Linked DNA regions of Homo sapiens: regions 2, 3 and 4 are each linked to region 1. Evidence: fine-mapped expression QTL. A gene starts in region 1. Each other region holds a variant in brackets. All regions are shown on one strand. Distances are from middle to middle.

Region 1 (5,000 bases):
ACCTCCAGGAGACTCTTGTTTTTTGAACCAAACTTTCAGGAATATCTCCACTCCTGTTCAGCGGTTCATTTAGGACTTGGGCGGCTACCTGAGTAAGACTATCTTGGACTAGCGGGATAGGGGGAACTCCCTCCTGGTTCTGTAACCGGCGGACTGCTTGTGGGGAAATCTTCCCATCTTCATCTGCGCTGACATTATTCAAGCAGGGAATCCCTCTCTTGCCTGCATGCTGAGGGGAGGCTGGAGGCAGGCGGAGAGGGCCCGCAGGAGATAGAAAAAACTGGAGGCGCCCACCGATACCCTCTCTCCTGGAGCCCGGGGCGCGCACCAACTCTTAGGCTAACCCCTCGGCCTCCCGCCTCTCTCTTCCCAACTTCCACTCCAGCCCAGTGAAAAACCTGTGACTTTAGATGCAATCGGTACTATTAATAAATAGCACCTAGGAGGGCACCGAGACCGGCACACAGCTGGAAGCTAGCCTCTGTCCCAGAGAAAGCAGTGCGGTATGGGCCTAGCGGGGCCGACTTCTGTGCACAGGCCGGGAAGCAATAAAGGTTCGGAACTGCTCCAGACCCGGAGGACCCCGCCGGGCACTCTGGATAACCTCCCCACTCCACTTCCAGGGTCCGAAAACACGGGACGTCTGCGACTGGCCGGTGTCCAGCACGCGCACTAGGACCGCCCCCGGCGCCCACCTCTAGTCTCCCGCATACCCGGCGGGCTTCGGGACGCCTACAAATCGGTTCCAGGTAATCGCGCGCGTTCCTCCGGCAGCACATCGCCAGGCCGCGGGCGAAGGGCTCCCACCTCCTGGCTCGGCCAACTCTGGCAGCTTGTTCTGCACACATGACGTAACCCGGCATTAGATCAAACTTTCTGGCACCTTGAACCCACTGGGGTGGGTGGAGGGATGGAGAAGATGGGAGAATCCTCTCCACTGCCAGGCGCGCCGGGCCCAGACTGACTCAGGGGCCGAATGATTTCCTCGCAGTTGAAGAGGAAAATAAAAACCTAAAGCTTCCGCTTCCCAGCCCCCCTCACTTCCCCCAGCCCGTGCGCTCTCTCTGCGCGCACCGGGAAAAGAGAAGGGAAAATTAAAATTAAAAAAAAAAAAAAAAAAAAAAAAACTTTGGGGGATGTTTGGCGGGTTCTCTCCGCAGTCCCTGCGGACCCACGCTCCAGGAAGGAGCTCCCGGCTGCGCACACTGGGGGCTCCCCGCGCCGGGAACCGGATGCCAGCCAGATGCCGGGGCTGGGAAGCAGAGAAGTCCCTACTCCCCGGCTCCCGCCCTTTTCCGAGTCTCCCGGCGCCCCGCAGAAGCAGTTGGTCTAGGCAGCCCCGGGGACTCCCAGGGGTACCTGGCCTTTCCGCGGCGGCTTAACAAAGAGGGGCGCGACGCGAGCGCTTCCCGCCGACGCCTCAAGCCATCAGCGCCCGGGCGACGCAGGCTCCGAGGGTGCGCGCCGCCAGCGGTTGGTGCGCGCCGATCCCCGCCGCCGCTCCTTCCGCAGGGCCCCGAGGCCCGGGTAGCCCTGGCTCTCCGCCTGTTATCGGCTTACCTGGGGTTGCTGCTGTTCCAGTAGACAGCGTAGCGGTCGGCGACGGCCTTGGAGCCCGGGTCCTGGCTGAACACACACATCCAGAGCACCAGAAACACCAGCGTCAACATCTCCACGTGCAACATCACGCCTGGCCAGCGGCGGAGCCCCCGACGCGCCACTCCGGGGAGAGAGCGGGGATCCGGAGGGAGGGAGGCAGGCAAAGGGACAGAGAGAGAGCGGGCGCCAAATAAATATGAATAAATAAAAATGAAAGTGGGCGAGAAAGGAAAGAGGCGCCCACCAAGCTGGGGAGGGGTAGGAGAGCGAGAAGAAAAGAAGGCGGTGGGATGGGGGGTGATAAAGACAAACTCGCACCCCCACTGGAGGGTTCAGGAGGAAAAAGGAATCACAAGATGGAGAGAAGCGTGCGTGTGTGTGGTGGCGGCGGCGAGGGCGGGGGAAGAGGTGCCAAGCTGTGTCTCGGGCGGCGGCGGCAGGCCGGTCACCCCGGGAGAGGGAGGTGCGCGCCGGGCCGGGCGGCTGCAGCGCGGGTCGGGGCAGGCGGCGGCGCGCGCTGCACAGTCACCGGGAGTTGCGCGCCGCAGCCGCGGGGAGACATACACCGGCCCGCCGGGCCCGGCTCAGCGTCGGCGCAGCAGGCTACGCACGGCTCCGCCACCGCCCGGGGCCCTCGCACTGCGCCACGCTTCGCTCCAAGTTACTTTGGCGGCCGGTGGGAAACTGCAGGAGAAGGGCGACGTGCTGATAGAGGGCTTCGCGCTTGTGGTCCCGGGAGTCTGAGAACCCCTTTCCTCAGCCTCCTCTGTGCCTTAGCGGGGCGACCCCCAGAAATCTCAGAGGAGTCGTAAGTGCTGCGGTACCGGGCGGTGCGCCGAGAAGGGTGGGGATCCGGAGCCGCAACCCAGCCTTGTCGGTGTCCTGGAACTGGTTAAGCGGCAGCTGCGCCGGCTTTCGAAGCGGTCTTGCCTCGAAAACCTCAAAGAAAAGTTTGGCTCTTCGCGTCTTCCGGCAGGTCCCCCAGCAGAGTCGGAACGCGGCGGTAGCGGAAGAGGGCACCCCGGGGGCTGGCCGAGCCTCGGGGATTTCTCGCGCGTGCTTTCCTTGGCTGGGTGTGGGTGCACCACAGTGAATGAAGAGCAGAGGTTAAGACCAGCCGGCCTGGCAGAGCTGGGATTCCTAAACCTGCAAGACGACGCCAACCCAACTGTTCGGCTGGAGAGCGGGAGGGGAAACAATCACTTTCAAATGGATCCCTCCAACTCCTGGATGGGCCGATGTCAGTCTCCGATCGCCTTCCGAGAGGGAGACTGAGCCCCCACACGCGGTGCCAAGAGCCCGGGGTGAGCTCTCAGAAGTGTCCCTGCGACTCCAGCGGGTCCAAGCCTAGCAACTTGTAGAGATGCATCAATCAGTTTGAAATGGGAAAAGAGGAAAAAAAAAAAGCGCACGAGCGAGTGGCACCTCCCCGATGACTACATCAGAAAACCTTCCCGATCCTCCCGCAGCTGCTCCTCTTTCCCTCCTTAGGCACAGCAGCAACAGAGGTGAAAACCACAAACCGAATCCTAAAACCCCTACCCAGGCGGGAAAATAAATAAACTTGAGTGCAGCAGCAGCAGCACGAGCAGCCCAGGAGGAATTGAAACGACTGGCAAGAAGTGGAAAGGGTTTTGTAAAAGTCAGTTTTGCAAAAGAGGGGGAAAAAAAGAGAGCGAGAGAAAAAATGCTTTATGGGAAAAAAAATCTCCTCGGGCACGCCCCCTCGTTAATGACTTGCGTGGAAAGCCGACAGCGGCGGCGACCCAGTGGCAGCAGCCTCAGCAGAGCGCGAGGCCGCACGCGTGAACGTGGACGTGGGCGGGGGGATGGGGCTCCGCCCGGGCGTGTTGCGCGGGACGCGGGACGGGCGGGCGGCGCGAGCGCGGGTGTGAGCTCCGGACGAAGCAGGGGGAGGTGCCGCCAGCCCGCGCCCAGCCAGCGCTGCTGCCGCTGCGGCCCGGGTCATGTGGACTGTCTTTTTTTTTTTTTTTTTTTTTTTCCTCCTTCCAAGCAGTTTACTTGGGAAGGGTGGGAGCGCGGTGGGGGGATAGCTGGAGCAACCAGTCAGGGAACGGCCTACTGTTTGCTTACAGATTGGGGGTTTTTCCTCTCTCTTTACTCCAACCGGATTGGTTTGCTCCACGAGAAAGAGGCGTTTTCCTAATCTCCCTTCCCCACGCCTCCTACCCCCTCCCCCGCCCCACCTTCTAGAAACCTGACTAATTGAATTACTGGGAGTGCCGAGGCGCCCTCTCCTGCGCCGGAGCCCGGCAGCCACGTGTAACCCTTTGGGTGCTGAATTCCGTCTGGGCTAAGGAATGATTTGACATCTTTTTACCTGGGAGTAGGGTCTTTCGATTTTAAAGGAACCTGTGCCCACCCTTTGGCTGGAGAGCCGGCATCTGTCTCTGGTGCCCCGCAGGTGACGGATGGGCTGGAACGGAGCCTCAGGGAGTGCGCGTTCCTGTCCATTCCACCCGCTCTCCACGCCGCACGCTGCCTGGCGCTGGGTTATCTGGAAGTCTGAGCACCCCTCCTGTGCCTTTCAGCCCTCCTCTTCCCACTTGGGATTTAAAGATTCTTGGGCAGGAAGCAAGTTTTCTTTAAAGTGATGCTCTGAAAACACGTTTTTAAAAATCAGGCAAATCACAGTTTAAAGTGATTACAATTCAGCGCGAACCTTCCACAGAGAGGAAATGAATGCGGCAGACGAGCCCTTCAGAAATAACCTCACACCTCTTCCATTTCAACCTTGAGGGTGATTTGCTGCCCACTCCCCAAAGAATAAACGCCTTTATCGAACCCGGTGCGGAAAGAAATGAGGGCCGGGGGCGGGGGCTGTGGGAAGAAAAGCAGTTCCTTTATTGTTGGAAAAGGCCCCTCGGTCCTGGACTTCAAGGGCAGGTTGCAAGCCTGGTCTTCAGCCGCCACTGAAGAGCGATCTCCTGGCAGCGAGACTGTCCCAGCGCCTCGGGACGCGTCCCCACTGTCGTCCAGCGCCCAGGAAGTGAGCCCGACGCCTGCTCTGCGGGGCCACAGGCCCCCGAGACCCGCCCTTAAGGGGTCCGCGGGCTCGGGAGCAGCGGTATTTTTTCTCATGTTCCCTAGGGAGTTTTCTGCCTTAGTGGGAAGGGCAGATCCCCAGGAGAAAAAAGGCAGTTTACTTTTGCTCCCACACCTGCCTGCACTCCTTTTTACTTATTAGCCCAATAAAATCAAATCTCACGTTCACCCTCCTGCGCTTTCCAGTCCTCAGACGGGATTTCCAGGCGCTTCAGAGCTGTTTAGAAGCGTCCAGACGCCCTCCAGTGGTGGGCCTGCAATCCGCACCCAGCAGGGGCATTGCCTGCCGCTCAGGCCGGGTTGAATTTGATGGGAAATCTAGGGCTATGACCAAT
Region 2 (8,482 bases), 200 kb before region 1:
CCTAGGCAAAATAGCAAGACCTTATCTCTAAAAAAAATTAAAAATAAAAATACACGAAATCAGGAGTAAGATGTCTTTTTTATCTCTTTTCTTCAAGAAAAACCCATCTACTAAGTTCTGATGATTTCTTTCTTGATATCCTTCTCAGATCTCTCAGAACCCATTTTAATACCGCAGGCTCATGCAATACTATTGTCACTCATGCAATTAGTATAATTACCTTCTAGCTGGTCTCACTTGTCTCCTTATCGCCTCCCAATTCATCAGGCTTTCCCAGGTTAGGAACCCCAGTGACTCCCTATTCTGTAAAATCAATTCTAATTTGTGCTTGGTCCTTCGCACTCCCCATATTTTGGTAGCATGGAACCTATCCAGCCTCAATTCCCAGGACTCTTCTGTAACCTGGTCTTCTCACCTGCTGTGCAAACTCCTACCTTCAGGCCTCTGTTGATTCCCCCTTTTTGCCTCCAATTCCCTCACTCCTCCACTGGGCTTTCTTCAGTGGTTAAGTTCTGTTAAGCTTTCATTACCTTCATAGCCCACCAAGATCTCTTCCCTTTCTGAGACTGCACAGGACTGAGGATATTATTACACTTAATGTGTGCAGTTACAGAGATTATTTTTTCTAAATCTGAGACATGGTCCCAGTAACATTTTATATTCCTTGGCATTGATAAGGATCATGTCACTATCTTGTCTTTATCCTTCATTTTGGGGCACATGGTCTACAAATTCATGCTAGTCAGTTGATGATAGAAACATTAATCCTCCAACTGAATAATGTAGCCTGGATAACCGATAATGAACTACTTCTACTAATAGGTGAATCCACTTGTAAATTATGGGTAGGGCAAGGCCATGTTGCTTAGTGATGGCTGGACCATGGATTGTGATTATTTACAACAGCTGAAAAGATGTATTTGGTGATCCATCCACATGTGAATGGTAACTAATGAAAAAAGAATTTAAACATCAAAGAATACAGTATTCTCCTTCATAGCTTGGTGTTGTAGCTATAGGGGATAATAAAGACAGTGATATTACATATGTAGTAGTTCTTACATGTAGTTGAAGATTTATCTATTGTTTCTTTTAACATTTAATAAGTTATATCCATGTCCATACGTTTTAGAAATAACTGCTATATTGTTTCAAAGAGTGCAAATAGCCTTAAGTCTGCAGTGATATACACAAGTTCTGAAAAGCTATAGATATTCACAGAAAACACATGCACAAAGCCATACACACAAAATATAAAGTTTGATTGAATAATTTATTATTCCAGAAAAACAAGAGTAAATGTGGATATTAAAGGAAATAAAGACAAATCCATTCTCTACAATGCTTGGGGGCTAATTTAACCTACAGTAATTAGACATCTAGCAGATCTCACAACTAGTCAAACCAGTACTTCCAAACACTTGTTTTATTACATGTTTTGTCACTAGGTTACGATGGCGTCATCAAATATTTTTATCGTAAGCGTCTATACTTGCAGTGACTCAAGACCGTGTTTCTCTCAGCTACTGCAAATAATAATGTTAATAGTATTAGTGATGATAAAAATTGTAACACTTTGGATGTTAAAAACACTAGAAGTTGTTAGTAAAGGTCTCTGGAGATTTCTACTCAGAATTTAAATGAGAACTTGAGATAATTCTTACACTCCTGGCTGCAAATTAGCAACCATCACTCCACAGCTTTCATATTAAAACTATGGGTACTTGAAGACTTTAGTCATTAATAAACTTTGCCCAAAGGACATTAGCAAAAGGCATGCTTCAGGTGATGGGATAGTGCCTCCCAGGACAGTGGGACTTGTCAGACTGTGCAACAGGATCCCATGGACCTGTCTCAATCAAGTTAATTAGAGACATCTGCAGCACAGAGATCAAGCCAAGCCAGCTCTGGCAGCTTATTTGCACCAAAAAGGTACAACTCATGTGGGAGGTAAGAGAGCTAGAATGACAAACAGATAGAGATCAGTAACGTGAGCTGGCTCAGTCATCTGAGTGTACTCACTGTTGAAATAAAGCTGGTAGGACCAAGGGATGCAAATGTCGAGCTGATGAAAAGGCTGAAGGATATTTGAACAAACCTTTGATATTCTTAGCCCCTGCAGGCATCTCAACACTGTAAATGGAGCCCCCAGTCTCCCTCCCCCCAGCACCTGCTTGAACTCTTCATTCACCTATACCTTACCTCCTGGGGTTGCTCTCACTCATTCCAGGGACCCCAGCCACCGTTTTTCTGCAAACAACTCTGCCCTCTTCCAAGATGTTGTTACTGATGGAGATCTGATGTTGGAAGTTGTAGCCTTTGTACTGCTGACATTGGTTGAAACTTTGCCTCTGAAACTTACACTCTATTCGACCCAAATCTTGACTCTAAAAAGCCACATCATTCCCCATTGCTTCCAGGTCTGATTTTTTTTTTTTTTTTTTCAGTCTGAGTCTACTCATCTTAGTGGAGTTTGGGTCTTTAAATATTTCTTTTATTCATTCTCCTTGTTGATATCATTCTTGAATTCCCTAAACATGATAGCAGCCAGCTTCTAATGAATTCCACTTATTCTACTTTTCATATACACACCAAGAAGAGCCAGGTGTCTGCTCACTGGGGAGGCAAATAGAACTATGCCCAAAGTCAGAATGTGACTACAACAGATTTAATTCTCAAAGCAGAAGGAATCTGAAAATACAGGTAGCCTAACACTCTACAATTTGGTGTGGAACAGATGCCAAACCATGACACATTCTTCCAGCTCTAGAACGTGTTATGATCCGATATTCTAATTCATTAACAATCGGATTTTCACTTGAATTTTTTTTTTTTTTTTTGAGACAGAGTTTCGCTCTTGTTGCCCAAGCTGGAGTGCAAATGGTGTGATCTCGGCTCACTGCAACCTCTGCCTCCCGGGTTCAAGTGATTCTCCTGCCTCAGCCTTCTGAATAGCTGGGATTACAGGCATGTGCCACCACGCCCAGCGAATTTTTGCATTTTTAGTAGAGATGGGGTTCCACCATGTTATCAAGGATGGTCTTGATCTCCTGACCTCGTGATCCGCCTTTCTCGGCCTCCCAAAGTGCTGGGATTACAGGCATGAGCCACCATGCCTGGCCTCATTTGACTTTAACATCCACATAGCAAATACATGACTATCATGCTTTTGACACAGATCTCCATAAAAGACAGATTGTAAACTGATGGCCTGTGAATCAATTTCGGCCCTGTACACTTGAGTTTAGCCAGTACAATGTTTCAGAGTCATCTGAACCAATATTTAGAAACCCAGAGATTTCAAATAAAGTACATGTTTCTACCTTCTCTTGAAAACTTGGATGATCAGATGCCACTGGCTCCACATTCTTCTTACACAGAAATATTCTGCTGGAGTGGATGACACCCAGTTTGTACACCAGGTCTGATTTTCTCACTTAGGTACCTGCCGGCTGCATTAGCCATGAAAGTTTGCATCCCTTGCCAAAGCACCCACGCCTTTGTCACTTTTCAGTATACCAAGTAATCAATAATATTTTACAGATTGTTTTCCATTTTAAGAAATGGTCATCAGCACTGAACAGCCACAATGGAGTTTTCAAGGATTTCAAACAGTCTGAGTTCAAATCTAGTATGTAAAAATTTCCCAGAGGATCAGAAACCCTTGTTGAGTTTTCCTCCAGGCATGACTAATACAATACAGGGAGGTGCTGTCATGCAACCATGCATCTTTGCATTACGAACGAGGAATGGTTTAATTGCAATTCACCCACCTATAGCATCCTGGGATGGCTTTATCCTGTTGAAGGGCGTATCTTTAGGCCACTAACTTTGTTAAAATATGTCAGGCCTGTTGGTATCAAATATTGGCTAA[C/T]ACAGGAAACACCACCTCAATCTTGTTAAATATTTTTAGCAAGAGGCCACCATGTTCCAGAATGATGCTGGCTGACCTGCCAGAGGCAAGAAGAAGCCCCGAAGATCTAAGACAACATAAATGAATGACTAATTAAGGGCCATTCTAAGGGAAAGGACAATTATGTTGACTCATAACTGTCTAGGTTCCTACCATTCAAGGCCTATACAATTTACATAAAAATCATTGTCATTAGAAAAGTTTCTGTCCCACTGTTAAGACAGTGTTTGTGCAATGTGAGGTTACTTCCTGCTTCCACAATATGACTGTGCTTTACTAAACAAACTTCTGAGCTAAGATGTTTACTTGACTGGGAAATGACTACTAATAAGCTGTTAAAGGATGTATCCTCAAGTTACTACTTGTGGCATTTGTAACACGCTCCCTGTTGAACAAAGGTGTCACAGTAGCACAGTGAATAAACAATCCTTTTTTCTCCCTGTAAGTTATACGATATTAAATGTTAATAATTAATTTGTCTTTGTGGATTAACATACAAGAGCTTTTCAAACAGGTACTGGTGCAACCCCACCCTTGTGAGATGGCTAATCATTTCACATACTTCACACTTACCCAGCTATCAGTATCACTGACCTCAGCTAGCAAAGTGTGAAACGGCAGATGGTTTGTAGTGTTCAGTAATGTCCTATGAAAATGTAGCACAGAAAACTGCAAAAGGTTTTGGGAGAGAATGGTGGTTTATATGAACTTTTCAAGAAACTCAAGAGAAACAAAATGCCACCACTGTCCACGTCAAAGGATCTGGTGAGGATCCTGGGAGAAAAATGTCAAGAGATTCTAAGGCTTTCAGTAGCACAATATTTTCAAAGTGCTTCAGAAGTTATTTCAATCTGCTGCATTGCTAAAGGGGAACAGAGCCTGAAAAGCCAGTATAATTTTGAAGGCTGTTCAAGGACTATGTCAGCAACATTCTTACCCTGCATAAGACTTATACATCTTAAGACAGAAGATTTGTCTAGGGTATCCACAATCTGATTACATATTTCTCACGAGAACTACCCCAAAGTGCAAGCCCTTTGTGTTGTTCTACCTGAGATGACATGACTTCAGCCTCAAAATACCCAGGCTGAACTGTTTCTGGAGCAATGAGATGTTGTTAATGAATATCAACACTTCCCAGATCCTTTAAAAATGCTAATATCAAAATATTTTACAAGAGTGAATTTCAAACTGTGTTCATGTTTTTCACAGCACGGCACCTGTTTGAAATGGTACAGTTTGAACATCTATAAAACATGAGATGGAAGATACCAAGGTGGCTTGAGAGTTTTTAAACTATATATATATTTTTTTTTTTTGAGACAGAGTCTTGCTCTTGTTGCTCAGGCTGGAGTGTAATGGCGCGATCTCGGCTCACTGCAACCTCCGCCTCCCAAGTTCAAGCAATTCTCCTGCCTCAGCCTCCCGAGTAGCTGGGGTTACAGGCACCTGCCACCACGCCCAGCTAATTTTTTGTGTTTTTAGTAGAGATTCGGTTTCACAATGTTGGCCAGGCTGGTCTTGAACTCCTGACCTCAGGTGATCCACCCACCTCAGCCTCCCAAAGTGCTGGGATTACAGGAGTGAGCCACTGTGCCCAGTCAAGAACTATATTCTTGAGAGCAAAATAGAGTATATTATACTTAGAATGGAACTATGTAAACCTTTACACATCTGTATTTTCAAAACAAGAACCCAGAGCTGTTCAAGTGATAAACAAAATCATCAGGTGGCTTGTTTAGAGTTTCAAAACAGACCCTTCTATTCCTGCTGTTTCTCCCTCTGGTTTCATTAAATATAAAACAAATGAAAATGACCAGTTCAATAGGGATATCTGACAGAATTTGGGGAGAAACATTTCATTAGCTTTCTATGAAGTCCAATACCTGTAATTTTATGTATCAGGACTCTCTGATTTGAAGTCCCTACAGAAATGCTTTATTCTTAGTCCATTTAGCTGCCCTTAAAATGTTTATTTTTTCTCTTTCTCTCTCTCTCTCTCTCTCTCTCTCACAGGAACATCCAAACTGTGTTGTCACAGTGTATAAAACAGAGGCATATTCCTTTCAGGTTATACTATACCCTGACTCCTTGATGAAATGATTTGATGTGGTTCACAAATCAGAATCAGACAGAATGAAATCATTACACCTTATATAGCTTAAAAACAAAAAAGCCAGACATAAAGTGGACAGGAAATCAGTCATAATGAAAAACTATTTCAAGTCACACATTTGCTGATTTAGTGTCTATTTGCTGAGCATTTGTATCACTATGTGCTAGGTGCTGCTGGGTCTGTGACAATGAACAGGAAAGGCTGTGTGGCAACTCAACACGAAAGCCAGCTGAGCCTCCTAGTAACCAAAACAAAAAGAGAAACATCACACAGTTTCAAAAGGGAGGTTACTGGCTTATCAAGAGAGAAAAAAAATGTCTTGGTAAGAAGCTACGGAGAAACATAAGGAATAGGTCAATGTGTAGATAAGAGATACTAATCATAATATTAACATATAGATATTTATGTACCTATGTAAGACTTTCTCTTCCACTAAAACAGATGAAGTAATTTATAATCTTTTGAATTAAGCAATCAATAGAATAATATCTGCAGAAACTCTTATCTTTCTGGACTGTTTAAAGGTACAAATCTAGAACCAAAGTCGCATATGTGATTTAAAACAAGCAGAAAATACATATTGGCAAAGGGCTTTCTTACATGAGGTATTACTGCTCTAGAAAATTGTCTACATTAATTTATAACTGTAAAAGGATCTCTGGCAATTACATTTATCCTATTCTCTTATTTTTCAGGTGTCTTTTGGGGATACATGTTATAAATCTTTTTTATTTCTCTATATAACCCTTCTTTCTTTTGGGTAACCTGATAGTAATAACTAAGCCACAGGTGAAAGGTTTCTCAAGGTGTGGCTATTGTGTTCTCTTGACTAACTTCTACCTGCACTGTTTCCTTTTTACAGGGTGGCTCTTATGTGACTAATCTAGGCCACAATATATTATTTTTTTTAAGTTAGGTAAAAGTAAATGTCTCCAGACCTTTAACTATATAGTACTTTATTTGCTAAATTATGCAAATCAATATACCCTAAATCAAATACATACCTCCTCTAAAGAGAGTTCCCCTTGGTTTTGAAACTCACTTTAACAAGCTATCAATCAGAGGCTGATATTTAGAGGTAGCATAACTGATTGGTAGCAGTGGGATTTCTGGCCATTTTTAGTGATAACCACCGAAATACATGAGCAGGGTTTTTAAACCCTAGGAAGGAAAAAGCCTGACCAAAAACCCTGACAGATATATAATGCCATGATAGAAATGCTACTCATTATGTCATACCTAATAATCCACATGTACCTCATTACTCAGCTGTTTGTGTTACACCCTGTTGCCAAAGGAAGCTCCCTGCTTCTCCTCCTGATCCAGCAATTAATATGCATATCAGGCACAGTGGCCAGACTTCTACGGAGAAAGAGGAGGCAGGCAAGAGATCCATAGTCATAAAGACCTAGGCGAGTAATATTCTCAGCATTATTCAGGAATGTTTAGTTGCTTGCTCAAATTTATCATTAACAAAGGGCCTATTTCCCAAAGGCTTCCACTGTGTAATTAGCAACAACAAATACTGCCCCTACTCCGGTTAACCTATGGGATTAGTTACAAAGGTTTTGTAAATTTCAGAAGATATCTACACAGATGTCGGGAGAGCACACACGCAAACACACAGTGCAGCATAATGGATGCAGCCATAGCCATTAAGTAGTTTAGGATTTGTGAGACTCAGACAACGAATACATTTTATGGGGGAAGTCATAAAAGTCAGACAGGAAAAAATATACAGCATGAAAGTTGAAAACTTCTAGACAGCATGTAAAAAGTACGGAGAAGTAGCAGGGGCAAAGGAAGAAACGTACCAAGTGGAGCTCATTGGTCTTAATAAATAGGACAAGGTCACCTGAGTTTACTTCTGGAACCAATAGAAATCCTGTAGTATCTAATTATTTTTGTAAAATGATTATTTTCATGCTTCTATTTACCATTGTCATTAGATAGGTTCATATTTCATTAGTCTGCTTACTAAAATGAAACTTTTCGTTTTATTTATGGAAGTTTTTATACTTCTCTAAGCCTGCTCCAAAAACATACAATTAAGCACTGCTAACCTGTTGATCAGGAAAGTATACTATACCAAAAGAGATGCAAAGACATGTTAACCATTCATACTGATTGAAAGGGCTCAATTTAAGAAAGTAATTTTAATTTAGATTAAAAAATAATCTGTAAATGACAGAGTCTGGAATGACATTATGAATAAAAATTAAGGCTAATGACCTTATCTTAACCATAAATTACTTTAGTTTGTAGAGATTTGTTCACACTTGGTAAGCAGCACTGTTCATTTCTTATGATGGGTATTCGTGTTTAAACAAGTTGGCAATTTTCAATTCAGAAGTCAAAATACTGTCTTAGTTGCCAACAAAAATAATTAATGAAACACTTCTAACCCCAGGGGTAAATATGTAAGCAAGTGCATGGTAATGGATAATAAAAAT
Region 3 (8,482 bases), 160 kb before region 1:
GACAAAGTGCTATTCCTATAAATTTATTTATAGGATGGCTTCGCTCTTGAGTTAATCAGAATTTGTGTCACTTACATAACAATGGTGACTAGCGTGACATGTTAGTAGTCTCTAATGCAATTTTGCTAAAAATTTTCTTATAACCCATTAATACATAAGAGCAGATGTCTTTAGATACCCTTTTACAGACTCTTTAAGATGACTATTTGTTCTTTTCATCTGAAAGAACCAACACAAAAGAGCAAAAGTGAGTGTCAACTCTTTTTCTTTTCCTTTTTTTTTTTTGTTTTCTGAGGTGGAGTCTCACCCTGTCGCCCAGGCTGCAGTGCAATGGTGCGATCTCAGCTCACTGCAACCTCTGCCTCCAGGATTCAAGCGATTCTCCTCCCTCAGCCTCCCGAGTAGCTGGGATTACAAGCATGTGCCACCATGCTTGGCTAATTTTTTTTTTTTTTTTTTTGTATTTTTAGTGGAGACGGAGTTTCACCATGTTGGCCAAGCTGGTCTTGAACTCCTGACCTCGTGATCCGCCCGCCTTGGCCTCCCAAAGTGCTGGGGTTACAGGCATGAGCCACCACACCCGGCCTGAGTGTCAACTCTTTTTACACCCCTTAAAAATATACTCATATACAGATGAATGGTTATAAATGATTTAAAAACGTAGATGAGGAACACTGGAATACGGCCTTCACGAGGGCAGAAATTTTTGCCTATTACATTCATTAGTATATTTCTAGAACCCAGAAGAGTCCTTGATCCTAGCAGATGCTCAATAAATATCTGTGTATTGAATGGCACATAATGGACACTCAGAACATAAATGTTTAATGACTGAATAATTCATGGAAATGATTACGCCATTAGTTAATAACAATATGCTCCATGATCATCATTTCACTGTATGCTACTGTCAAAGGCATTTGAATCACAGCAACTCCATCTTGAATAAGGGCTATGTAAAATGAGGCTGAGAGCTACTAGGCTGCTTTCCCAGGAGGGTAAGAGATTCTTAGCCACAGGATGAGATAGGAGGTCAACACAAGGTACAGGTCATAAAGACCTTGCTGATAAAACAGCATGTGGTAAAGAAGCCAACCAAAATCCACGAAAACCAAGATGGCCATGAATGTAACCTCTGGTCATCCTCGCTGCTCATTATATGCTAATTACAACACATTAGCATGCTAAAAGACACTCCCACCAGTGCCATGACAGTTACAAATGCCATGGCAATGTCAGGAAGTTACCCTACATGGTCTGAAATGGGGAGTAACCTGCAGTTCCAGGAATTGTTCACCCTTTCCCAGAAAACTCATAAATAATCCACTCTCTGTTTAGCCTATAATCAAGAAATAACTGTAAGTATCCTTAGTCTAGCACCTCAAGCTGCTGCTCTGCCTATGGAGTAGCCATTCTTTTATTCCTTTACTTTCCTTTCACTTTACTCTAGGGACTTGCACCAAACTCCTTGCGAGATCCAAGAACCCTCTCTTGGGGTCTGGATCTGGACCCCTTTCTGGTAATACTACAATATGAATACTTTAAATGGTGGTTACCAGGAAGTCTTAAATGTTTATGACAAGTAGGTGCTTAGTACGTTTTCTTGAATATATGAGTAAAGAAATAAACTAGAAAGACTGGGTCACAATTTAGAAAATAAGTCATGAGGTGCTGAAGACCAGAACAGCCCAATCTTTTTTTATAAACCTCCTGGATGCAAGTTTTAACACAGTCTCAAAAAAGTTGTGATCAGTTTCTCCAAAGCTACACACTGAGACTAGGATGACAACGAGCTACCTACTCAGGATTTTGCAAGGACCAAAAATCTTTTCTTACTTTACAATACTCTCAAACAGAAACTATTTTAAACTACATGGTTAATTCAACCTTGTGGACTGGATGGTCATCAAAATGATTATATAATTATTTCAACATAGTTGCATTTCTTTCTTTTTCTTTGTGTGTGTGTGTGTGTGTGTGTGTGTGTGTGTGTGTGTGAGACGGAGAGTTTTGCTCTTGTTGCCCAGGCTGGAGTGCAATGGCACGATCTTGGCTCACTGCAACCTCTGCCTCCCAGGTTCAAGTGATTCTCCTGTCTCAGCCTCTCTAGCAGCTGGGATAACAGGCATGCGCCACCACGCCTGGCTAATTTTGTATTTTTAGTAGAGACAGGGTTTCACCATGTTGGTCAGGCTGGTCTCGAACTTCTGACCTCAGGTGATCAGCCCGCCTCGGCATCCCAAAGTGCTGGGATTACAAGAGTGAGCCACTGCTCCCGGCACCATAGTTGCATTTCTAAATATAAAATCCCCACGAAGTTTGAAAAGATGATGAGATCAGGGATATTTGAACACATTTTTAAAGTAAATGGATGTATGGAATATTATGATAGAATATAGTAGTAGTGGTAGTCAAGCATGAAACTGGTAGAGAAACAAAAATATACATGTAAAATAAACTCAGTATTTTAATAATAAAATAAATGGTATCCTAAAAAATACACTGATTTTGTAAATCTATATTTTGCTATTGTGACTTTCTATGAATATCCATTTATAAAGTGTTACATTCCAACCTGAAGCTTTTTTAAAAGTACAACAATCTTTTTAGTTTCAACTTTAATCTGTAAATTAAGTGCCCTAAATCATCTAATAGCATAGCTCTAAATTCATCCTTATCACCACTGCCTATTTAACATCAAAACTATCATAAAAAAAATAGTTCTTATCTATCAATGCATACATATATTACTTTTCTTAAAAAAAACCTGACTAATAATGTGGCACCATGAACATGTTATATGTAGACATGGTTTGTTCAAAGGGCTAAAAAACAATTATAGCCCTGCCTACTCACAATGCATTCCCCCAAATTTTCATTAGCTTACATCATAGTAAGACTTCACAAAATTTTCATCTGAAAAGACCTACTTTCCTTAAGATCTTGCTCACAAAACACCCAAAAGGTGCATTTTGAGAAAATGAAGAAAATGCCATGATGCTATCTGTGGCTCCTGCAACACTTGTTTTACTTCCTTTCGAAAGAAATAGAAAGTCAAAAGAGACTTCAAATGGTGGGCAGATGTAAATGGCATTTGCCTGAAAAGACATAAAGCAGCATTCAACAGGGAAGTCCCACCCCACTGAGTCTGTATAAGCGCTCACTCCATCTCTGTTGTAGTTGAAGACAGTGGCTGTCAATCAATCCTGGCTCAGTGGTTAAAGAACCCCACATAGGCTCCTCAGTAGGGTGTAAATGGCTGCAATCGCCTGGGTATAAGCAACTGATTTGCAAGCTGAGGGGCAAAACAAAACAAACAAAACAACAACAACAACAACAACAACAAAAAACACAAAAACCCCCACCTTGTTTCTTCCTCACACAACCTGAAATCAATACTCTAGCCTGTTTTTTTTTACCTTCTAGGAGGTTTACAGTTCTTGTAGGCCATCATTACAGAGAGTCACAGAAGGCACAAAACTGAAGCATGTCACCCAGGTTAAGAAGCTGAAGACTTTGTGCTGATTTCCAGTGATTATTGCCATTAAAATAGAGCAATGAGATAAAGTTTTGCCAGAGCCAAACACACACCATGGTGTTTTTGCAAAAGCATATACGAGAACTTAACTCCAAGATGACAGCTCCATCAAGCAGCAATCACCGAGAATGCTGTTCTGAATTCAAAGGCAACCCTGCTAACCACTCTTTCTGAGTAAATCACTTAACTTCTTTTATACCTCAGGTAGTTCATTGTGCACTACCTCACCATGGGTTGCTTACCAAGAAAACGTAATAAAAATAATTGGGGAGCTCTTTGAAGACATAAAATTGCTGTGGAGAGAATCAACTGTAAATTTAAGTCTGTGCTCCTTGGTGAAGAAGTCTCCAAGTGAGCTAGTCTTGATGAGGTCTCCTTTGATGATTTGGACTGTACTACTCTTAGTAGAAAGAGGCTCTGCCCCTTCCTGATGGGTACTTACGTACCCAGTGGCCAGGAGGAATGGACTCAGGGATGGGGCTAGGGGCCTCACCCACCAGGCATGAGAGGTAATTTGTGCTTCCCTGGCTGCCTTGGCACCATGCCTCTGTAGCTTTGTTTCAGGGATGACATGCTTCAGCTCAGGCTGCTGTGCTTAAGTCCTACTGTAGTCAGAGATTTGGGGCTGGGAAAAGAGGGGCAGCTTTGCCCCCTCCTGAGCCAAGAGGAGAGGGAGAGGGAGAGAGAGAGAGAGAGACTCTATCAAATAAAAGCCTGTTGGGATTTACAAGGAAACACTCGCTTGGGAGCTCAATTAATAATAAAATGTGATGAGCATGTTGATTCTGTGGGTTTTGTTTCCAAATCATTTGCTACCTGCCCCATTTCAGAGCATGTCAGGAATGGGTACTCTCCCACTGCAAAGATGGGGAAATGAGTCAAAGTGTCTCACTTGTGTAGCAAGTGGAAGCCAGATGTCAGAAGATGTATGCTGGGCAGATGTTAGAATTTTAAAACGAGAACTACCTGAATGGCCCCAGCAGAAAACATGGTATTCTAAAAATAGGACACCGACACCCCACCGAAATCAACTGTTCATTTATTTATTCTACATGACGGGTGCTGTGGGGCACCAGCTTCTTGCAAGCCTGCAAAACTGCTTGTGATTCATAAGATGTTTCTGAACAGAAAGAGGCTGGTGGTATCCGTCCATTAAAAACAGGCTCTTCACTGAGATACTGGGCTCTATGTTGTTTTTTCTTTAATTCCAAGAACTCAGAGGGAGGGACAGAAATGCTCAGTGGATAGCTATGGATGGATGAGCAGAGGGGAGAGGAAATAAGTGTGACATGTAAGCTGATCTGTGTGATACAGTAAGAGAGGAGGATGTTGCGAGGTAGGCCTGGGTCAGCGTCGCACAGGTGTTGGTGCTGGAATCTGTTTCCTGAAC[G/A]TCTGTGCTGAACACAAAAACAACCAGGACCACGGGGGTAGAAATAACAAGTCTCACATTGCTTTAACAAAAACAACAAAATAAAGCACTATTCCTGTTTTCTGCTGTTTCTGTCATGCTAAATGACATCCCTGTCCCCAGGTTTAGCTATGTATTTTGCCACCTCATAAAACCCCAATCAATCTTCCCTTCTCTTCTGGCACCAAGTTATGAAGCATCCCTGATCTTCCAGACCTAAAGAAAACAGCAGAGAGACGGGGCTCCTCATCAGGTAGAGGTTTTCTTTTTTGTCAGAATTTGAGACTAAATACAGATTGGAGTATTCACTTGGGAATTCAACAGAGATCCATCTTAAGGAACATTCCAAATACACAATCAGAAAGAAAGCATTTGTGTGCTTTTCTGCTCCTAGGAAAATGCAGAGAGAAAGAAAAGGTTACTGTTTCATGTGAACTGATTTCTCCCTTCTCTGTGGTAGGCAGAGAACACATCATCCCACCTGGAACGTGAGTCATTTGTGAAATGCTTGTTTTAAATTCAAACTTCTCCACAACCTGACGAGTGTGTGGGAGACCCAAGGAAGCTGACATACAAGGGCAGATTTATTTTTCTGCCAGAAGGAACCATCAACACAAAGGCCAATGGTAACCCTAAAAATGGAAATGTGCTAACCCTTTTTATTGTCAAGCAAATAAAAAAATTATTCTTCAAAGGAGGAGAAACAAATGCTCAGACCCTCCAATGGCTTCCTGTCTCATTCAGAGTAAAAGCCCAAGTCTCTACAAGGATTCTATGAGGTCCTACGTGACCTGCCTCCCGTCTCCTCTTTCCTTACTTCACTGACTTAATCTCCTACCTCTCCTTATGATATAGGAGTTAAGAAGAAATTAGGCAGATAGCAAGGGCATGGGAGTCCTTGATAAGGCTTTTCTTTTTAATGAAAAACAGAAAAACAGCCCCAAATCATTTTCTAACAAAGAGCTGCCTGCAAGCTAGGAGCTTGCATGGGTGAATGCCGGCAGGAACTAAGGACTAGACATGTGCAGGATGGCAGCTCCATCTTCCTTTCTCTGCCAGCCACGTGTACTGTCAAGGAGCAGACAAGATGGTCCCAATCAACTAGAAAGTCCACTTGCACTGTAACCTCCGCCTTCTGGGTTCAAGTGATTCTCCTGCCTCAGCCTCCCAAGTAGCTGGGATTACAGGCGACTGAGCCACCACACCTGGCTAATTTTTGTATTTTTTAGTAGAGATGGGGTTCCACCATGTTGGCCAGGCTGGTCTCAACTCCTGACGTCAAGTGATCCGCCTGCCTCAGCCTCCCAAAGTGCTGGGAATACAGATGTGAGCCCCCATGCCCAGCATCAAGACATGGTTTTTATTTTTTATTTTATTATTATTATTATTATTATTATTATTATTATTGAGATGGAGTCTTGCTGTGTTGCCAGGCTAGAGTGCAGTGGCACAATCTCGGCTCAATGCAACCTCCGCCTGCTGGGTTCAAACGATTCTCCTGCCTCAGCCTCCCTAGTAGCTGGGACTACAGGCATGCGCCACCACACCAGGCTAATTTTGTGTTTTTCGTAGAGACAGGGTTTCTCCATGTTGGTCAGGCTGGTCTCGAACTCTCAAACTCAGGTGACCTGCCTGCCTTGGCCTCCCAAAGTGCTGGGATTACAGGAATGAGCCACTGCACCCAGCAGACATGGCTTTTAAAGTGCTCTGTTTTATCTACTTAAGGCCTGGACTCCACAAATCAAATCAATGTGTTATAATACAGAACTCTGGGTACTTCCTAATCTTATAACCTCTTCCTACTCATGCTCACGCCCCAAAGGCTATCTATCTATGAGATATGTTGTACACAGGAGAATCCAAGCCCAAGAAACTAAAAATCATCCCAAAGCAGTTTAAAAATGAACAGGGTTTATTTTACTGTAGAGCTTGTTACATCATCCATTTGTTGAATTACCATTTATGTTGGGTTACTTATCCTTACAATTCAAATGACCTACAGCCCTAGACACTAGAATTTTATTTCATTTTTGAGACACAGTCTCACACTGTCGCCCACGCTGAAGCGCAGTGGTATAATCATGGCTCACTGCAGCCTCAAGTAACCGGGCTCAAGTGATCCTCCTGCCTCAGCCTCCTAAGTAGCTAGGACCAAAAATGGGCACCACAATGCCTGGCTAGTTTTGTGTGTGTGTGTGTGTGTGTGTGTGTGTGTGTGTGTTAATTTTTGGACAGACGAGTTTACACTATGTTGCCTAGGCTGGTGGCAAACCCTGGCCTTAAGCAATCCTCTCGCCTCGGCCTCCCAAAGTGCTGGGATTATAGGCCTGAGCCACCATGCCTGGTTGAGTTTTATTTTTTTTAAGCAGCCACGATATACAGGAATCAAGAGAATTTAATCCTCAAAAGTAAAAAAGAAAAACCTCTATGAAAGGAAATGACTTGGGCTTGTGTCTATGTAGTGCCCAAAACAACCTGTTGGTCTGCTAATCTGTTAATCAAACAACTGTTTTAACTATATTATGAGAAATAACCACTTCAAGTTATTTTTGTTTTTATAGAATTGACAACTCCTGTTCCTCCCAAACTGCTTCTTTGATACACTACACATATGGCCGTAAAAGAAAGAATGCTTTAAATACCATGAAGCCCACATCTAAGTACTTAATTATCTGGGAAGCTTATGATGATGGTGATGATGTTTTCCCTCAATGGTAAATCTAAACCATGTGTGACAGCTGCAAACCACAGCATTTATTTAGTAAAGCCAGGGCTCCTTGCTCCTCTGTAGGCTTAGGAAACATTTCAGTGATGTCTGAAAAATAATAAAATATGTTACATAAAAGTCCAATATCTAGAACCTCAAAAATATTATATTCAGTGAAAGAAGTCAGACATAAAAGAACACATATTGTATGATTCCATTTGTACAAAATGTCCCAAAAAGGCAAGTATATAGAGACAGAAAATAGATGACAGGCTATCTAGGGCTGGGGGTAGGCACAGGGGATGACTATAAATGGGTATCAACCTTTCTAGAATACACACGTCATAAAATTATATCGTGATGACTGGATGGCTCTGTAAATACACTAAAATTCATTGATTGTACATTTACACCTCATGAATTTTATGGTATGTAAATTACATCTCAATAACACTGTTACTAAAAAAAAAAAAAGATGGAAAAAAGTCCAGTATTTATAAAAGCTTACAGGTTATAGGGTGCAGGGAGGAGAAACTAGAAGACAATGATGCTATCTCACAGTATTCATCATGCAAATTATGGTTTCTGTTCTTTTCTCCACTCCTATACAATCATGGTGACTCAGGAGAGGGTTACAGGTGTGTTGAAGCACAGTGATAAAAGTACTGAACTCCGGGCCAGACTGCCTAGGTCGGCCACCTACTGCTCTGTGACTTCAGGACAAATCACTCGGTGCTTCTTGTACTTTAGTTTCCTCATCTGTAAACACTAGTAATAGTACTGACCTCATACGGTTGTTGTGAATATTAAATTCAATATATGAGAAAAG
Region 4 (8,482 bases), 180 kb before region 1:
GATGAGGAGCTGTTAACTGTGATAGTTATGATTTTGTATTTTTTTTTTTTAGATTTCTGAGTTGAGGAATATTTGCAAGCAGGTACAGTAATTACCCAATTCAGATGTTTATAGAAAAAGAAACACATCTTAAAAATAAAGGTACCACAAAAAACAAGAAGTAGAAAATTGGAAGATGGAGAGATGAAAGAAAAATGAAGAAATTTCAGAGAAAAATGAAAAAACAAAGCAGATTTTAAAAAGAAAAAGAAAAAAAGGTAGGAAATACAAATTAAGAAATTTCAGAGAAAAATGAAAAAACAAAGCAGATTTTTTTAAAAAAAGAAAAAAGGTAGGAAATACAAATCTAAGAGGAGGGTTTGAATTCCTAATCCTGTTCTTTTTCCTTGCACTTCTATTCAAATCCCTTTTCTGCATCTCAACTTTTGTCTGCACTAGATGGTCCAATTCTAGCCAGACTTCAACTTGTAGCAGTCCCAAGGTAGAAATGACTAGAAAAAAGAAAGTTCCCTCTTAGCTATGAAGAATGAAAAACATTAAAATGCAAATTCAATGTAAAAAAGAAAGCAAGACTATACACACATTTCACAGTAGCAAATTCTCAGGCAGAAGTGGAAGCCAGCAAGTAACCCCCTGAGGTGTGCTAGTGTAACTGTTTCAAGTTTTGGGGATGACAGATAAACAGCAAGTCCTATTACTACTGAATGAATCTCTCTCTCTCTCTCTTTTTTTCTCTGGGAAGAAAATGTTTGTGATAGAATTGGTCCTTGAGAAAGAGTGAATTGATCTGTTAGCTTTCTGTGCTGGACCAGAAATAATTATTGCCATACCTACTTCCTATGGATTATGTTCAAAAGTTAGAGATACTCACTTATTCTGTCTTTATGCTATGGGGAACTAATCGGAACTGGGGTTTGCTTCACTGACTCTCACTTATTTTAAAAGTCAGGCTTAGTAGGAAAGAAAAAGTCAAAGAGATTGACCAAGAAAGGATGAAATGTTCGGTCTAGGTAAACAAACACTGTCTCAGATAAAGTTCTCCACGGGTCTCGACCTCACCTTCTACTGCGTATGAATTCATTTTACAATGTTCGTTTTTTTTAAGCTAGATCTTTGTGTGCTTATTTTCAACAGGGGATGACAATTGATTTGTTTTCTATTGAACCTCGCCAACTGGATACTGAAGCGAGCACGGCATATTTAGATGCCCTTAAACTTTCAGGTTCACCTTTAAAACGTGCCAAGACAATGTCATGTTGAGGGTAAATGTGCAATTTTCACTAGGCTGAGACGAGAAATGAGTGTCTCGCAGGTGAAATGACATTAAAGGCGTTACAGTAAAACAGAGACCAATCCTTATTGATTCATTTTAACTCAAATAAAATTCCAATAATTTGATGGACATGAAATAGCAAACAAAGGAAAAAACAAATCAGATGATTCCTGAGTGTGTGTGAAAGAGCACCCAGGCCCTGCTAGAAAAAAGCCACACTGCCAAATTCAACCCTATGTATATTCACAGGCACTTATTTAGCCTACCGGCTTCTCCTTCAGGAGTAGGACTGGTAAGGAACTTTAAAAGCTAAAAGATATGGAAGATACAACCTAATCAGGTTCAGGTAGCTAGAGAAACAAGACACACCCATAAGAAAGAACTTATGATGATAATTCTAAAAAAAAATGCATAACTACATAGTGGAGAGTGGTTCGGGTAACTTATGGAAATCCTGAGGCTATAAAAGATAAAAGAAAGACATCAGTTTATAGAGTTCACCCATATCTAACTTTCTTCTCCTTCTGGGCGTATGAGAGTATTATACCTCTCTACTACCTTAGAGTTAGGCAGAGTTGTGGGCGGAAGGAACATGAGTCACTTTTGGGCTGAAGCAAGACTCTTCAGTGTTCTCTTATGTGGTGGTTTGTGTTGAGATGACAAAACCACAAGACTGAAGAGGCCTCTATCATTGAGTCACACACAGATAATAGTTACCTGCCTTAATAAACTCTGTCAAACCCCTGAGATCCTGGGGCTGTTTGTTACTGCAGCACAATATATTCTGTCCTGACAAATATAGATACCAAGGCAGGGAGGAGCTAGAGAAAGTTACTATGAAAAGAATTTTAGGGTCTCCTCAGTGTATTTATACTTTAGTTTCCTTCCCCCTTTGGCTGACCTGTCTGCCTCCAATATCTCTCAAATACTCCACATTGCTGCTAGAGCATTCTAAGACCTACATCTGTTCACATCTCTGTTTGAACTTCAAATGGAATCGCCTGGCACAAAAGATAAAGAACAACTTCCTTAGCATAGGGTCAAGGCCCATGGTATCTGGCTCTGTTTCCCAATGTTATTTTTGCCCACTAGTTCCCATCCTGTATTCCTGCCGTCAGCACTCTGATTGAGCCACATTCTGCTCTGCCTCCATGAACTGGGACACACTGCTGTGCCTGTAATGGCCCCCACTCCCTCTTCCCCCCGGGTGAACACCTAACCAACTTCTGGCAGGATTCACTTCCTCTGTGAGGCCTTCAGCTCCTCTCTCCTCCCTCAGCACTTTGTGCATTCTGTTACAAAACACTGTTCCTTAAAAACTTTGTTTAATCCCCTTCCAATGGATAGTGAGTTGCTCAAGGCAGTGAGTGATTCACTTTTGTTTCCCCCAGAGCATCTAGCACAGTATCTGACAAGCAGTTAGTATTTGCAGAAATAATGAATGAATAAAGGAAAGAAGGAATATCTGCATGGCTGTGTCCATGAGAGTATTAGGCAGATGACAGGGGCAGAGTAGAGGTTTGTTGGATAGAAGTAAAATGTAAATGTAAGCAGCCAGCAGGTGTCAAATTACAAAGAATGAGAATTTTTCACTTGATCCAAAAGGTAATAGGGAATCATGATAACTTCATGAGCAGCAAAATGATAATTTTGTTCAGCCCTGTAGCACCTTGTGCCTTGAATGTCAGCTATGTTTATGCCAATCTTATTCCCCCTTGGACTGTAAAGCTCCTTGAAAACAGGGTTTGTGTCCTAATCATATTTGTATCCCCTATAGCAACAAGCACAGTGTTTGTATAACAGGTGCCAACAAATATTTGCTGAATTTAATTTTACAAAGATTACTCCCTATGCGATGAGGCTGGATAGACCAGCTAGCAGACTACTGTATTATATCCAACATTACATGGGAAATGGACTTAAAGGGGAGTATTGCCTATGGAAATGTGAAAATAGAAATCTAAGATGGTCTAATATTCCAGTCAGCAGCCTTTAGGGTCTCTAATATCAATTAATGTTTTGAGCCTGGGGTCCCAGAAAAATGGTGGTCTATTTAAAACACAAATGTTGAGAGGAAGATTTGCTTTTCTCAGGGAGTACATGAGTCCCATGTGGGAGATAACAAAAGAAAATATACTAGAGCTAAAAGCAGCTAGAAATACTAACCGCTGTATACAAATGTTATCTTATCCCCCATCTTGCGGCTTAGTTCAATTTTTTTATTGATTGATTGATTCATTCACTCACTCATTGGTTTTATTTTTGTAAATTTCTTACATTGTATAAAGTAATGTTTCTGAAGTTTATTCAAGTCTATTTAGATTATTGTCTGTTTCACATTAATCCCCAAAGTCAAAGACGGTGAGTGAAGTAAAGAAATGATGTGCTAGACTCTTCTGCTTTGGGTTTCCCAGATATCTCTAGTTATTCTCTATCAGAAAGGGTTTGCAGGGGCTTCCTCTTGTTGAAGTACCCTTTTTAAAACTCCAGCTGTCAGCAGGGAATCCTACAAGCATCAAATTATTTTACAAATCCCAAGTTTAAAAGAGCACTCCATTCAGAAGCTATACCTGGTTTTATTATGACTCACTTCTTAAGAAGACACACACACACAACTAGTGAGCCCTTAAAAGAAACATTAAGACCGAAAAACAAAAAAACTCTTTTTTTTTCCAAGACAGCGTCTTGCTCTGTCGCCCAGGCTACAGTGCAATGGCACGATCTCAAATCACTGCAACCTCTGCCTCCTGGGTTGAAGCGAGTCTCCC[G/A]CCTCAGCCTCCCAAGTAGCTGGGATTACAGGCGAGTGCCACGACGCCTGGCTAATTTTTTGTATTTTTTAGTAGAGATGGGTTTTCACCTGTTGGGCAGGCTGGTCTTGAACTCCTGACCTCACGATCCGCCTGCCTTCACCTCCCAAAGTGCTAGGATTACAGGCATGAGCCACTGCGCCCGGCCACAAAAAAACCTCTTTTAAGATACTGTCCAAAGCCTGTACCTGAGGGATTCAGTGTTATACCTCCCAAAATAAAATATGGATTTAAAATTCAAGGTATATATAATAGGTTATCAATAAGTTAACTATTACCATCATTACAATATTTCATTTAATCTATTGCAAACTCATGTATTGGACCAGACAAAATTTGTTTGTTTATTTAGATGGAGTCTTGCTCTGTCACCCAGGCTGGAATGCAGTAGGGCAATCTTGGCTCACTGCAACCGCCGCCTTCCAGGTTCAAGCATTTCTCCTGCCCCAGCCTCTCTAGTAGCTGGGATTACAGGCACGTGCCACCATGTCTGGCTAATTATTGTATTTTTAGTAGAGACAGGGTTTTACCAAGACCAGGCTGGTCTCAAAATCCTGACCTCAGGTGATCTGCCTGCCCTGGCCTCCCAAAGTGCTGGGATTACAGGCATGAACCACCGTGCCCGTCCTGGACCAGATAAAATTTAAACCAAACTTAACAGATTAAAATTTTCTGTGGGTTAATGTTAAAATCATACCTAAAAAAGTTTTAGTCCAATGTGAACCTAAGTTCACATTCTAAAAGGTACCTGGAACCTCAGGTGCCTTCACTGGACCCTAAAGCTTCCAAGCATTTTGTGATTGATTTGACCCCACCTACCCCCCCCACCAAGATCTAACACTAATGTTTCATTCCTGCAACTGAACATTATCAGTTTTTCATATCATTTATTTGTGGCAAAATGAGAAAACATATCCATAGCAAGGACTATGTACAGGAAAGTTCTCTGAGTGGCCTTGCACTGACTCAGTTATGCTCTTTCTTGCTTGTAGCTCTCAAGAATAACTGTACCAGTGTGCTAGGAATGCAACATCCTGAGATAAGAGGGGACCTGGCTGAAACAGCTGGACTTAGTTCCAATGTCCCCAGAACAGGATGTCCTTCAACACTTTAGCCCAGAAGATCTCATGACTCAGGGTATAAAACCCAGGGTGGGTGGATCTCCAGGGTCCCTCAGCTGGGGTACAAGTGGGGCATGCAGGGACAAGATTCCATCTTTCCTTGGCAGCTTGCTTGAACCATGGGGGACCAGCTAGCTAGCAATTAATTCTAGGATTATGTTATTCCTTGATGCCTATCTATAGATAATAAACCCGCTTTGTATAACTTGTGTGCTTGGGTGTTCTGTCTCACTAGACTCAGAGAAGTTGGTAACCAGTGCATAGTGAACTTGCTTCACACTATGTCATTTATTTGTTTATTTATTTATGTATTTTAGTGACCTGATCTTCCTATGGTGCCCAGGTTAGACTCCAACTCCCTAGCTCATGGGATCCTCCTGCCTCCACCTCCCAAGTAGCTGAGACTACAGGTGCACGTTACCATGCCCAGCTATTGCTTTTAACACATCCCACCCATGCTTTCAGTTAAACAATTATTCTATCTCCCTGAATTGCGTGACATTTTCCAAAAAAAGAATCATCAAATGAATCCTTTCAAAAGAAATCAAGCATCTCTTGCATCCTCACCCTGCAGCATTAAGATGCAGGCCTGCCAGCGAGGGGGTGAAATCTTCACCCTCACCTTTCAGGGAAGTGCAGGGTAGGCTACCACCTGCACTGCAAAGTTTATCCAACATGAGAGTTCCTTTGGCAGGGAACATTAACCGCTGACTTATGCTTGTCACTGCATAGGTAAAGGACACTGATACAGGTAAAGAAGTCTGCATGTGCACTGTCATGACCAATGCCTTACAGCGGCTACTCAGATTCCTCTTTACTTACTGTGTCACCATCCAGTGGGGAAAAGCACCTCAGTATTAATCCTAGTTACACATACTCTAACAGGACATGATCTTAACCATTAGGGCAGTATTAATTAAGGTATCTTGCAGAGATCCTGCTCATTATATATTTAAAAACAAGATGAGGTTTCATTAACTCTTTTACTTTCAATCATCTTCAAACTCAGCTCCTAGAAAGCAAACTGGGTTCCATACTTGCTTAAGGCTTAAGAACACATTTTACATTTATTCTCATTCAAGCCACATTGTGATATGAAGTGATTTATGAATTAGAGAGCACATGTGTTATCAGAATTCCGTAATAAAATGTTCAGAGACTCTTGGCTTTGTCACCATTAGGGACAGGACATAGGCTTGCTTTTCCATGGTCTGGCCAAACGGCCTCCAACGACAGGACAAGTCCCCACCTCCAGGCATATTAAAAATTATAACATGGTATATACTTCAGGCAGCAGAACTCTTAATTCTAGCATTTTCTCAAGGCAATACAGACGGCCCCTCCCTCCCTCCTTCCTCCCTTCCTTCCATGGAGTTCCGCTCTTGTTGCCCAGGCTGAAGTGCAATGGCGTGATCTCAGCTCACCACAACCTCTGCCTCCCGGGTTCAAGTGATTCTCCTGCCTCAGCATCCTGAGTAGCTGGGATTACAGGTGTCCACCACCATGCCTGGCTACTTTTTGTATTTTTAGTAGAGACGGGTTTCACCATGTTGGCCAAGCTGGTCCGGAACTCCTAACCTCAGGTGATCCACCTGCCTTGGCCTCCCAAAGTGCTGGGATTACAGGCATGAGCCACCGCACCCAGACTGTTCTTTCTTTTTTCTTGGTGACTGGAATAAGGGAAGTCTGCAATTTTTATGACTTTATATGTGTATCCACAAAATCTATGTGCAAAGATTGCCTCTTCAGAGGGGAACTGAATAGTTGGAAAATAGGAGTGGGAAGAAGACATGTTTTTCACTGTATACCCTTTTATAGCTTTTAAGTTTTGTATCAGGTATATGTATTATACATTCAAATACTAAAAATTAAATTAATTAATTTTTTGAGACAGAGTCTCACCCTGTCGCCCAGGCTAGAGTGTGCAGTGGTGCAATCTCGGCTCACTGCAACCTCCGCCTCCAGGGATCAAGCGATTCTCATGCTTCAGCCTCCCGAGTAGCTGGGATTACAGGTGCGCGCCACTATGCCAGGCTAATTTTTGTATTTTTATTCGAGACAGGGTTTCGCCATATTGGCCAGGCTGGTCTCAAACTCTTGGCCTCAAGTAATCTGCTCACCTCTGCCTCCCAAAGTGCTGGAATTACAGGTATGAGCCACCACCCCTGGCCTAAAAATGTAATTTTAAAAGTACAAATAAAAGCAAAACAACTACAAACTTTCCTAAACCATGTTTAAAAAAAATTATTCAGTCTTATAAAGTTACAAAAACTTTTTAAAAATCTAACCTTTAAAAAAAATATTCAAAATACATTTTGGAAAAAATGCTTCAAAGATTTTATATCTAAAACACTGCACCTGGACACTGTTAAGAAACAGTTATATGTCATCCTTTTATTATGATAACTATTCAGCTAGAAAGATCATTACCTACTTTGACATTATAAAAGTTAGTGAATTTAAAAAATAGATAATGTGTTTTTAAAGGAAAGCATGTTATTTTTCCCTCTAAGGTATGCTTGACAAAAGTTCAGCATTTCAAGTAAATACACATTATTTCATTTATCAGTTGTGATCATCTCATTCTCTTCAGTATGACTTAAGAAGCTTCAGGAATGTGTTTATTCTCACCTCAGTCACTCTCACAGGCAAGACTCCCATTAGAGAAAGAAGCCACCAGACGCCACCAGAACCTTAACAAAATTAAGGATACCTTAGGGCTCTCAATTTCACTCTGAAAGAAAATCATCCTTGGCCGAGCACGGTGGATCATGCCTGTAATCCCAGCACCTTCGGAGGCCGAGGCGGGCGGATCATCTGAGGTCAGGAGTTTGAGACCAGCTTGGCCAACATGGTGAAACCTCGTCTCTACTAAAAATACAAAAATTAGCAGAGTGTGGTGGCGGGCACCTGTAATCCCAACTATTCAGGAGGCTGAGGTAGGAGGATCGCTTGAACCGGGAGGCGGAGGTTGCAGTGAGCAGAGATCACGCCACTGCACTCCAGCCTGGGGACAGAGACTCCATCTCAAAAAAAAAAAAAAATACATCTTTAAGATCTATTCTTGTAAGATTTTTTTTCAACAGGAAAGCTAAAAAAATGCTTAAAAATATATACATTATTTTAGATTTGAAGCCACCACCTAGAGAAAAGGAGATATATCCTATTTGTTACATAATGTCTCTCCAGAATAATTACTTTTATTTGTTCACTTTCTAGAGCAAACACCATAGTTGTTTTTTGTTTTTTGTTTTTTTTTTATCTTTTACAACCAAATATTT

Alleles and levels. Alleles are on the strand shown, and positions count from the first base shown. SD is a standard deviation of normalised expression in the study named. Not every link is listed here.
In carriers of allele G in region 3, the expression in thyroid of the gene that starts at base 2,009 in region 1 tends to be lower than with A alone (small effect, 0.23 SD a copy in GTEx).

Evidence for each region.
Region 2: its variant is fine-mapped to the expression of EFNA5 in blood mononuclear cells (TOPMed, PIP above 0.99). The same link has a PIP of 0.9 or more in whole blood.
Region 3: its variant is fine-mapped to the expression of EFNA5 in thyroid (GTEx, PIP above 0.99).
Region 4: its variant is fine-mapped to the expression of EFNA5 in whole blood (TOPMed, PIP above 0.99).

The regions. Positions count from the first base shown.
Region 1 is chr5:107,668,929-107,673,928 of GRCh38, forward strand. It overlaps EFNA5 (ephrin A5), which reads right to left and starts at 2,009. Exons shown (of 5, transcript NM_001962.3): 1 at 1,561-2,009. The coding sequence starts at 1,685. RefSeq lists enhancers at 1,162-1,241, 1,642-1,771, 2,482-2,621, 4,362-4,861, 4,763-4,812 and silencers at 1,402-1,471, 2,042-2,091, 3,452-3,521, 4,893-4,972.
Region 2 is chr5:107,470,837-107,479,318 of GRCh38, forward strand. All of the region lies in intron 1 of EFNA5 (ephrin A5), which reads right to left. Among named protein-coding and RNA genes, the nearest start is that of EFNA5, 200 kb to the right of the region's middle. RefSeq lists enhancers at 1,677-2,431, 3,900-4,049. The variant C/T (reference allele first, on the strand shown) is at 3,875.
Region 3 is chr5:107,509,045-107,517,526 of GRCh38, forward strand. The region is part of intron 1 of EFNA5 (ephrin A5); the gene reads right to left. Among named protein-coding and RNA genes, the nearest start is that of EFNA5, 160 kb to the right of the region's middle. RefSeq lists silencers at 3,044-3,338, 8,282-8,331 and enhancers at 3,044-3,338, 4,323-4,382. The variant G/A (reference allele first, on the strand shown) is at 4,929.
Region 4 is chr5:107,484,763-107,493,244 of GRCh38, forward strand. All of the region lies in intron 1 of EFNA5 (ephrin A5), which reads right to left. Among named protein-coding and RNA genes, the nearest start is that of EFNA5, 180 kb to the right of the region's middle. The variant G/A (reference allele first, on the strand shown) is at 4,042.